2 separate regions of the Homo sapiens genome follow, and region 2 is reported to be linked to region 1. The links are microRNA targets in miRTarBase. Many come from high-throughput screens and were not tested one by one. Region 1 holds a microRNA gene; the other region holds the end of a gene's coding sequence.

What was found. The annotated mature microRNA hsa-miR-124-3p reads UAAGGCACGCGGUGAAUGCCAA and lies in region 1 at 1,331-1,352, opposite strand. An mRNA with a match to its seed (bases 2 to 7 or 8) in the 3' UTR can be bound and repressed. Matches are read on the target gene's strand: a 7mer-m8 pairs with bases 2 to 8, a 7mer-A1 pairs with bases 2 to 7 and ends in A, and an 8mer does both.
Region 2: miRTarBase lists PREB as a target of hsa-miR-124-3p. The part of its 3' UTR that is shown has no 7-base or 8-base seed match.

Annotation. Positions count from the first base shown.
Region 1 is chr8:9,902,069-9,906,068 of GRCh38, forward strand. MIR124-1 (microRNA 124-1) reads right to left here and starts at 1,404; the gene lies at 1,320-1,404. It overlaps MIR124-1HG (MIR124-1 host gene), which reads right to left and starts at 1,261. Exons shown (of 3, transcript NR_024281.1): 1 at 1-1,261. LOC124902057 (a long non-coding RNA gene) reads right to left here. Exons shown (of 4, transcript XR_007061170.1): 2 at 3,091-3,294; 3 at 2,464-2,560; 4 at 2,002-2,119.
Region 2 is chr2:27,128,035-27,132,034 of GRCh38, forward strand. It overlaps PREB (prolactin regulatory element binding), which reads right to left. Exons shown (of 9, transcript NM_013388.6): 7 at 3,976-4,000; 8 at 3,638-3,797; 9 at 2,722-3,474. The coding sequence ends at 3,380. ABHD1 (abhydrolase domain containing 1) reads left to right here. Exons shown (of 9, transcript NM_032604.4): 2 at 407-567; 3 at 911-1,093; 4 at 1,282-1,327; 5 at 1,480-1,592; 6 at 1,720-1,893; 7 at 2,071-2,119; 8 at 2,217-2,382; 9 at 2,499-2,778. The coding sequence ends at 2,710. Among named protein-coding and RNA genes, the nearest start is that of PREB, 4.6 kb to the right of the region's middle.

The DNA of each region.
Region 1 (4,000 bases):
ACTGAGGCTTTGGAGAGGAAAGAAGTCCTCAGTAAGCTTCAGTGGAGACTCTTAGGGCTTGATTATTGTGTCAGGAATCAAATTAATCTCCTAAGCATCCCTTATGGCCTTGGCCTTGCAAAGCCAGGCCTCTGCCATGCTCGGGGGAAGGGATGCAGCAGGCTTCCTGGGCAGAAGGATCCAGCTCTTGGCCTCCTTTCTCTGCTCCTCCCTCTACTGCAGGGACCTGCCCCTCCTCCATTTCCTCCACCTGGAAATTAATGAGCTTAGGTCTTGCCCCATCCGCTGCAGCTTGGTGGTTAATACAGAGCTGGAAATGGGATGAGACTGTGGCAGCGCAGTACGAGGGGGGTCTCTAGGACCAGCTGCTGCTCAGGGTCTAGTGATGGGAGGAAGGCCTGATTTGGGAAGCAGGTTCTTCAGGATGAAAAGCTTAACCCTTTCCATTCCCTGACAGCCTCTTTCAAAACAGTCTTTCCTCAGACCCCCAGTTGCACACATTCTGTTTTTCCTTCTGTTCACATTTTTAAAGGAACACATGTCTCCCTTGGGTCCATGTAGGTTATTGTGCCTCTCCCTTCCTCTGCAGCTCCTGGATCTCTGCCTGAAACTGCAATAACAGCTACAGGGAGGGCGTGAGGTGCTCCTTAGAGCCATGACCACGCTTTCAACTCCGATAGAGCTTGTGAACCCGCTGGGAGCTGGCTCCTTCTTGTCCACATAGCCCAACGACTTCCTTAAGCTTGTCAGGTGCTCTCAGCTCTACAGCAAAGTGTGACAAACAGCTCCCCCTCTCCCTTCCTACCGCCTGCCCTCCTCCCCAAACCTCAAGCAGAACACAATATATCCGCAGTCCAGGCCCTGAGGCAGTCTGCCAGTCTCTGGATGCCAAATTATTATTTTTTTAAGGGCAAACCAAAAAACTCAGCTCAGAACAAAAACACAGTCACGGAGGAAGGTGTTGACCCACATACAATGAGTCCTGAGCCCAGAGAAAAATCTGCACACACAAGCACTCCGCAATGCGCTCCCAGGCGACCCCCTCCCCACGCACACCGCATCTGTGCTGCACAGATCTGCTTCTGTCACAGAATCAGCTTCTGTTTCTCTCCCTGAGTCTGTTTGCATCTCTAAGCCCCTGTCTGTCACAGGCTGCACACCTCCCCACCCCACGGGCTCCGGTGCGGGACAGGCAGCCGGAGGGAGCTCCAGACCCCTCCCCTCGCGCCCGCGGCCGCTGCGCGGAGGTCTGCGGAGGGCGCCTGGCTCGGTCGGTCGCTCCTTCCTTGGCGGGCCCTCGCCGACCCACGGTGCTCAGCCAGCCCCATTCTTGGCATTCACCGCGTGCCTTAATTGTATGGACATTTAAATCAAGGTCCGCTGTGAACACGGAGAGAGAGGCCTTTCTCCTGAGGAAGGAAAGGAGGAAGGAAGGAAGGAAAGGTGAAAGAAAGGAAGAGGGGTGGGTAGAAGATGGAATAAGAAAACCAGGAAAAAGAAATAAAAAGCGGCGCGTGTGCGTGCGCACTGACAGCGGGGAGAGGGATGGGGGTGGGGAACGCCGGAGGAAGGGACCACAGCATCCTCCCCGCCGCAGCTCCCCCAATCACACAGACAATGAGATAACAGCGACGTCTTCCAAAGGCTCTTTGTTCTCCCCCATCCTTTCGCATCCAGGCTTTTTCCTGCAAAGCGGAGGGGGTGGAGGGATGGGGGTGTGGGTGGAAGTGGGAGACGGAGGGGTGCCTCCCCCGTGTTAATTACCCCGGCTCCCCTCGCCCCTTTCCCCGCGCCTCGCCTCCCCTGCAGCTCCAGACAATGAAAAAACAACATCGACCCCACCTCGCCCCAGCGCAGCAACCCACCCACCCATGTCGCCCTCTGCTTCGCCCAGGAAACTGAAGGGGACTAGGAGGAGGAAGAAGAGAGCGAAGGACAAGGAGAGCAGCGGGGACTCGGCAGCGGCAGCCGGGGCAGGGCGCGCGGCCGCCGCCTCTTTACCTCCATCGCTGAGTGGGGGCGCAGCCGGGCCGGGCGTGCCGCAGGGGCGAGTTGCCGCGGTCCGGGGCTGGGACCTGGGGATTCAGCCTTCCGGAACTCGCCTGCTGCAGTCCTCTCGCTCAGGTCCCAAGTGGTGGAGGGGGGAAAGGAAGAGAGACGAGAGAGAGAGAGACAGAGAGAGAGAGAGAGAGAGGAAGAAGAAGAAGAAGAAGAAAAAAAAACCATAAGAGCGAGGCCCATCTGGCCCCTCATCAGCTTTGTCAAGTCTTGCATACGCTAAAATGCTAATGACCTAGATAGCTCATGCAAAATGCAGCAGGGAGGGCGGGAGCGAGGGAGGTGGGAGGGAGGAAGAGAGAGGAGTGCAGGGGGGAGGGAGGGAGGAGAGGCGGAGGGAGGGAGAGAGGGAGAGAGCACCCCTACACTCTCCCCACCCCACCCCCAACTGTCAGCGGGCTTTACCAGGTAAAGGGTGGACGTAGATTTAAAAGGTCACTCGTGTATAATGCGGCTGGATCCCCGGGTCAAAAAAAGGGGGCGAGACAGAGGATGAGAGTCCCTAAAGCCAAAAGGACAATAAGACATCATTTTAAGCCCCCACCCCCATGCCCTCCTCCACCTCTCCACACTGTTTACACACAAATCCTGTCGCCGCCTCATGCATGTGCACGGACATGTCAATTTCTCATCAATTTCTCAGCGCTCCTATCGACAGACACCCGAATTCTCATTCCCAGCAAAACTCATCCACTGGACCCGAGGGAGGAGAAGACCCCTTCTCCTCCTCAGTGCTCTTCGGGCTGGCCCATCCCTACTCACCTCCATCTCCACTCTCTACTCCCTTAGCCCTCCAGGCAGCAGAGGGCTCCTTCTCTTTTCTAAGCCTTGAGTCCCCTGTCCCCTTTCCAACCCCCGCATCTTGAGAAGGAGACGCAGAGTAGCAGGAAAGCCAAGTCAAGTCCACCTAGGTCTCCCACAATTCAGCTACCCCTCCCAGAAAAAAAAAGAGACCCCAACAACCCCGACCCCTCTCCTACGTAGACACTGTGAAAGCAAGCCACAGGGACAAATAAAAGACAATCCGAATACCCTCAGCGTTCCGCACGCCGGGCGGACGCCCTTCCGCAGCGGCCACGCGTGTTCTGGGTTCAGCGCTCCTGCGCGTCCCTTCTCGCCGAACCCAAGGTGCTTTGTCCCGGCGGCCACACAAGGTCTTCGGCTTTTTGTTCTCCTTTTTTAAGAGACTGGCCGCAGTCCCCAGCGATTCAGCCGGCCCAACCAAAGGCAGTGGATCTACTGAAATGAAAAGGATCGAGATAATACACAGGCAGATGAATAAGGGGGGGGATGCTGGAGGTGCAGGAAGCATCCTGGGAGCGGCCGCCACGGCCAAGCCCGAACTGCTTGCTGCCTTCGCTGGGGAAGGCGCAGGAGGCGAGCCGGCGCTGGTGGTCGCTCCACCTGGCAGGAGGAAATGATAACCATGATAAGGAACGTGATGATGATGATGATGATGATGATGATGATGATGAGCATGATTTAAAAAAAATCAGTCTCCCTCTTGGTGAACCAGAGCATGCGTGCCGGAGGGACTGCACTGCTGGCGGCGGCGGCCGGGGGAAGGAGAGCGGCGCAGGAGGCAAAGGTTGAGGAGGCAGCACCCTCGGATGAATAATAACACCGCGCCGCGCAAGTTGCGGAGCCGCCTGGAAATCCAGCCCTTCGCGTGAACTCGCGTCGAGCGCGGATTGCAGGGGATGAGGAAGAAGGGGGAGGGGAGGGGAGGGTGGAGGAGGGAGGGGGAGGGGTAGAGGGGAAGGCAGAGAGGGACAGAGAGAATTGGGAGCCTTTTAATTTTTCCTTACCAAGCCCTAATCTCGTGCGCCGTCCTCTTTGGCTGAGGTCGAGCTCCTTTTTAAAAATTATTACTCCTTTAAAGGATTATTCAGGTAAAGGAAGCCGCATCTGCTGACGGTTCCGAAAACAAGAGGATTAGGAG
Region 2 (4,000 bases), not on the chromosome of region 1:
AACTCCTGGGCTCAAGTGATCCTCCCACCTCAGCCTCCCAAGTGGCTGGGACCACAGGCGCACACCACTGAGCGTGGCTGTTTACATCACCTGCTCTCTCCAAAATGGGTTTGGGGCATGGATAGGCTGAGCAGGAAAGTCAGCACTCAGTCAACTCAGCAGCTCCCAGTTCAGGGTCAATTCTGGGCAGTGACACTCCAGGACTGGGTTTTTTAGGGGCTCTAGCTGGAGTGTATTATCAGACTTGGCCATTCAACTGAGCTGTGCTGAGTATCTCACATGCAGACAAAGCAGGGTCCTCCAGGCTGGGCTCTGGAGAGGGGGCCCCCTCACCCTCTGGTGTTGGGTGCCTCACTAGCTTGGTGCAAAAGTCAGGGAAGTGGGGCAGACTGCTGTGTGATTACAGAGGCCTCGGCTGGTGGCTGGGCCGCAGTTTCTGGCCTTCCTGGAGCCACACTGTTCCATCACCACCGAGACTTTCTACCCAACGCTGTGGTGTTTTGAGGGGCGACTACAAAGCATCTTCCAAGTCCTCCTGCAGTCTCAGCCCCTAGTCCTTTATCAGAGGTAAGAAGGGACAGAACAGGGTGAACATGAAACCCCAGGTATCTAGGGAAAAACCTATCTACCACTTTTAAAATGTAGGTAATCTGCCTCATCTACATCCCTGTGTTGAGGGTTCAATGACAATGGATGTTATATGGAAGGGCTATATAATTGCACGGCCACCAGGTCATCTTTTATGTCCCCATCACACATTGTCAAGCCTTACTGTTTTACATGAAGAACACCCTCAGATGATGCTGACGGGAAGTGATAAGACTTGTTTGTGGGTGGGGCAGGGGGCAAAGCTTTTGAATTACATTAAGTTCTTAATAGTATCTTTGTGTGCCTCTTCCTCCAAAACCAGTGACATCCTCCAAACACCAGATGGAGGCCAGCTCCTGCTAGACTGGGCCAAGCAGCCTGACAGCAGCCAAGACCCTGATCCTACTACCCAGCCCATTGTGCTGCTGCTTCCTGGCATCACTGGCAGTAGCCAGGAGACATACGTCTTGCACCTAGTTAACCAAGCTCTGAGGGATGGCTACCAGTAAGGATGGGTGCAGCCCCAGAGTGGGGTGGCATCTGAGAACGTGTATTAGGGAGAAGTCAATCCGGACACTGATAGATAAGAAGAATGCTACACAAAGGGAGTCTTTGGACAGGGGTCTTTCTGAATACTGAAAGGGGAGAGGGGCTAAGAAGGGTCTGGCTAAGATGTACCTGTGTGTGCCACAGGGCTGTCGTGTTTAACAACCGGGGCTGCCGTGGGGAGGAACTGCGGGTGAGTAGCTGCCTTCCTCATAGCAGCCCTTCACCCACTCCCTTTAGAGATCCTTGGCCCTGGGGCTCACCTCCTACCTATCCTTCCTCAGTTTCCCCTCCACCTTCTGGCCACGGTCTCCCTCCCTACCCAATGATCTGGTTTGCCCTCAGACCCACAGGGCTTTTTGTGCCAGCAATACTGAAGATCTAGAGACAGTCGTGAACCACATAAAGCATCGTTATCCCCAAGCTCCACTGCTGGCCGTGGGCATCTCTTTTGGAGGGTAAAGATTGCCTGGGCTTAGCCCAGAGGCCCAGTCTTCCTTTTTTTCCTCCTCCATGTCCCCTTCCTCTGTCCCAACCCACATTAATGCAAACCCTTCTTTCATGGTCCCTTGTCCAATTCCACAGGATACTGGTGCTGAATCACCTGGCACAGGCCAGGCAGGCTGCAGGGCTGGTGGCAGCACTGACTCTGTCTGCATGCTGGGATTCCTTTGAGACCACTCGCTCCCTGGAAACCCCACTCAACTCACTGCTCTTCAATCAGCCCCTCACTGCTGGGCTCTGCCAACTTGTGGAACGGTAGGGTCGTGGCAAGTGGGAGGAGGCAGTAGACAGAGTAGGATGGCAGACACTCCAGGCTCTCCTAGTGCTTGGTCAGTTCTCTCTGGGCTTCCTCACACATGAGATAGTAAGACAGGGCCTGGGGGTGGGGGATCAGATCCAGGTGTCAAGCCAAACTCTTATGTACTTTTGCAGAAACAGAAAGGTGATTGAAAAGGTGGTGGACATAGACTTTGTACTACAGGTATAATATTCAGCCATGCCCCTGGTTCCCCCAAATGAGTCTTCCACTATCTTCCTATTCTTTATCATCTTAGCCTATCCTATGGTAAGACCTGCAGGCCCGTACAATCCGCCAGTTTGATGAGCGCTACACATCTGTGGCCTTTGGATATCAAGACTGTGTTACCTACTACAAAGCAGCAAGCCCTAGAACCAAGATAGATGCCATCCGGATCCCTGTGCTCTATCTCAGTGCAGCAGATGACCCCTTCTCCCCCGTCTGTGGTGAGTACTCTGATTCAGGACACTTTGGCCCCAAGGAAAATGGGCCATGAGGGACGCAACAGACAGCCTGGGCTCCCAGTGAAGGCCAGTGTTTCTAACCTCTGACCCTCTCCTAGCCCTTCCCATACAGGCCGCCCAACACTCCCCCTACGTTGCGCTGCTCATCACAGCCCGGGGTGGCCACATCGGCTTCCTGGAAGGGCTGCTCCCGTGGCAGCACTGGTACATGAGCCGCCTCTTGCATCAGTACGCCAAAGCCATCTTCCAGGACCCAGAGGGGCTGCCTGACCTCAGGGCTCTCTTACCTTCTGAGGACAGAAACAGCTGACAAGAGTACCATTTGGGGTCTCAGTTCACTCTTTCCTTGTTTATTAAATATCAACTTTTCCTGCCTAATGGGCTGAGGTTCATTTTCCCATTCCTCAAGGTAAGGGTAGACTACCTAGGAACTTATTGCATCTTTAGGCCAGCTGGCTTAGTGCTACCCATCTGAACCCCCAGATTACTACCCAAGTCTTCCTTTTGCCCCTTCCTGCCCTAACAGCAAGTACCAGGCCAGTCCCTTCCCCAGCAAATGCCAGGGGCTTCATGTGAAGAGGAACTGGCCACAAGGCTGAGGGGAGGAGGAGAAACTGTTTCTGCAGGAAGGACAGCAGTGCCTCCAGGCTCTTGGGCATCTTCACATGTTTCTAGATAAGGACAAGCTCAACTCTGGAGCCTCTGGTAGGCAGAAGAAAGGAGGCAGGGAGTATGGCCTGGGCTTCAGATACCGCTGTTCTGGATGGATCCACAGATGACGAAGGCAAGGTTCCTGGGACCTGGAGTCACACAGGGCCATAGCCAAGCCTTTTCACTAGAAGGGCAGGCAGTGCCCATTCATCTTGTCAGCGGCAACCTCAGCTGTGGACCCGAATGGAGTGAGCAAAGGGAGTCCAGGCCTCCACTCTGCTCTAGAGATGGCAGTGTCCAGGCTCCTGATTCCCAGGAAGCAGGGAAGCTAAAGGAAACCTGGAAAGGCACTCTGGAGCAGCAGGATGGTCACAATAATAAGCCCGACACACAGCAGGAGCAGGAGCCACACAGGAACACTCCCTGCAGGAGGGAAAGGGAGGAGGTCAGCGGGCAAAAGGGCTTCCCAGCCTGAAAACCAGAACCCTTCAAAGGAGGAGTGGCACAAAGAGCCCAGCCTCCGGGGGGCACGTTTCTGGTCATTAAACGTGGGGTGGTGCCTGCCTGCCCTGCCCCAATGACTCACGCCGTGAGGGCAACAGATGCAGCTGGCAACGACTGTCCACAGCCACAGAGAACAGGGCAGTTTCATGGGACCCAAGGAGCTCTGGACCACGACCCTTCTCAGGTAGAAAGGCCACATCCGTCACCACAATGCCATGGGCCTCCCTCACGTAGTAGAGGCACTGTGGGCAGAAGGAATACCAGTGAGGAAAGGCCTAGCTGGGAACTCTCTTTCTGGAAAGCATGTTCCCCACCCCCAGGATTTCCCTCGATAGGATGGGCCAGACTCCTTCCTGCAAACTCAGGGTAGAGACAGGCCTACAGTCCACCCACAGGGCCATGCCAACCTCCACCCATTACCTGGAGAGAGAAAGCTATGTAGATG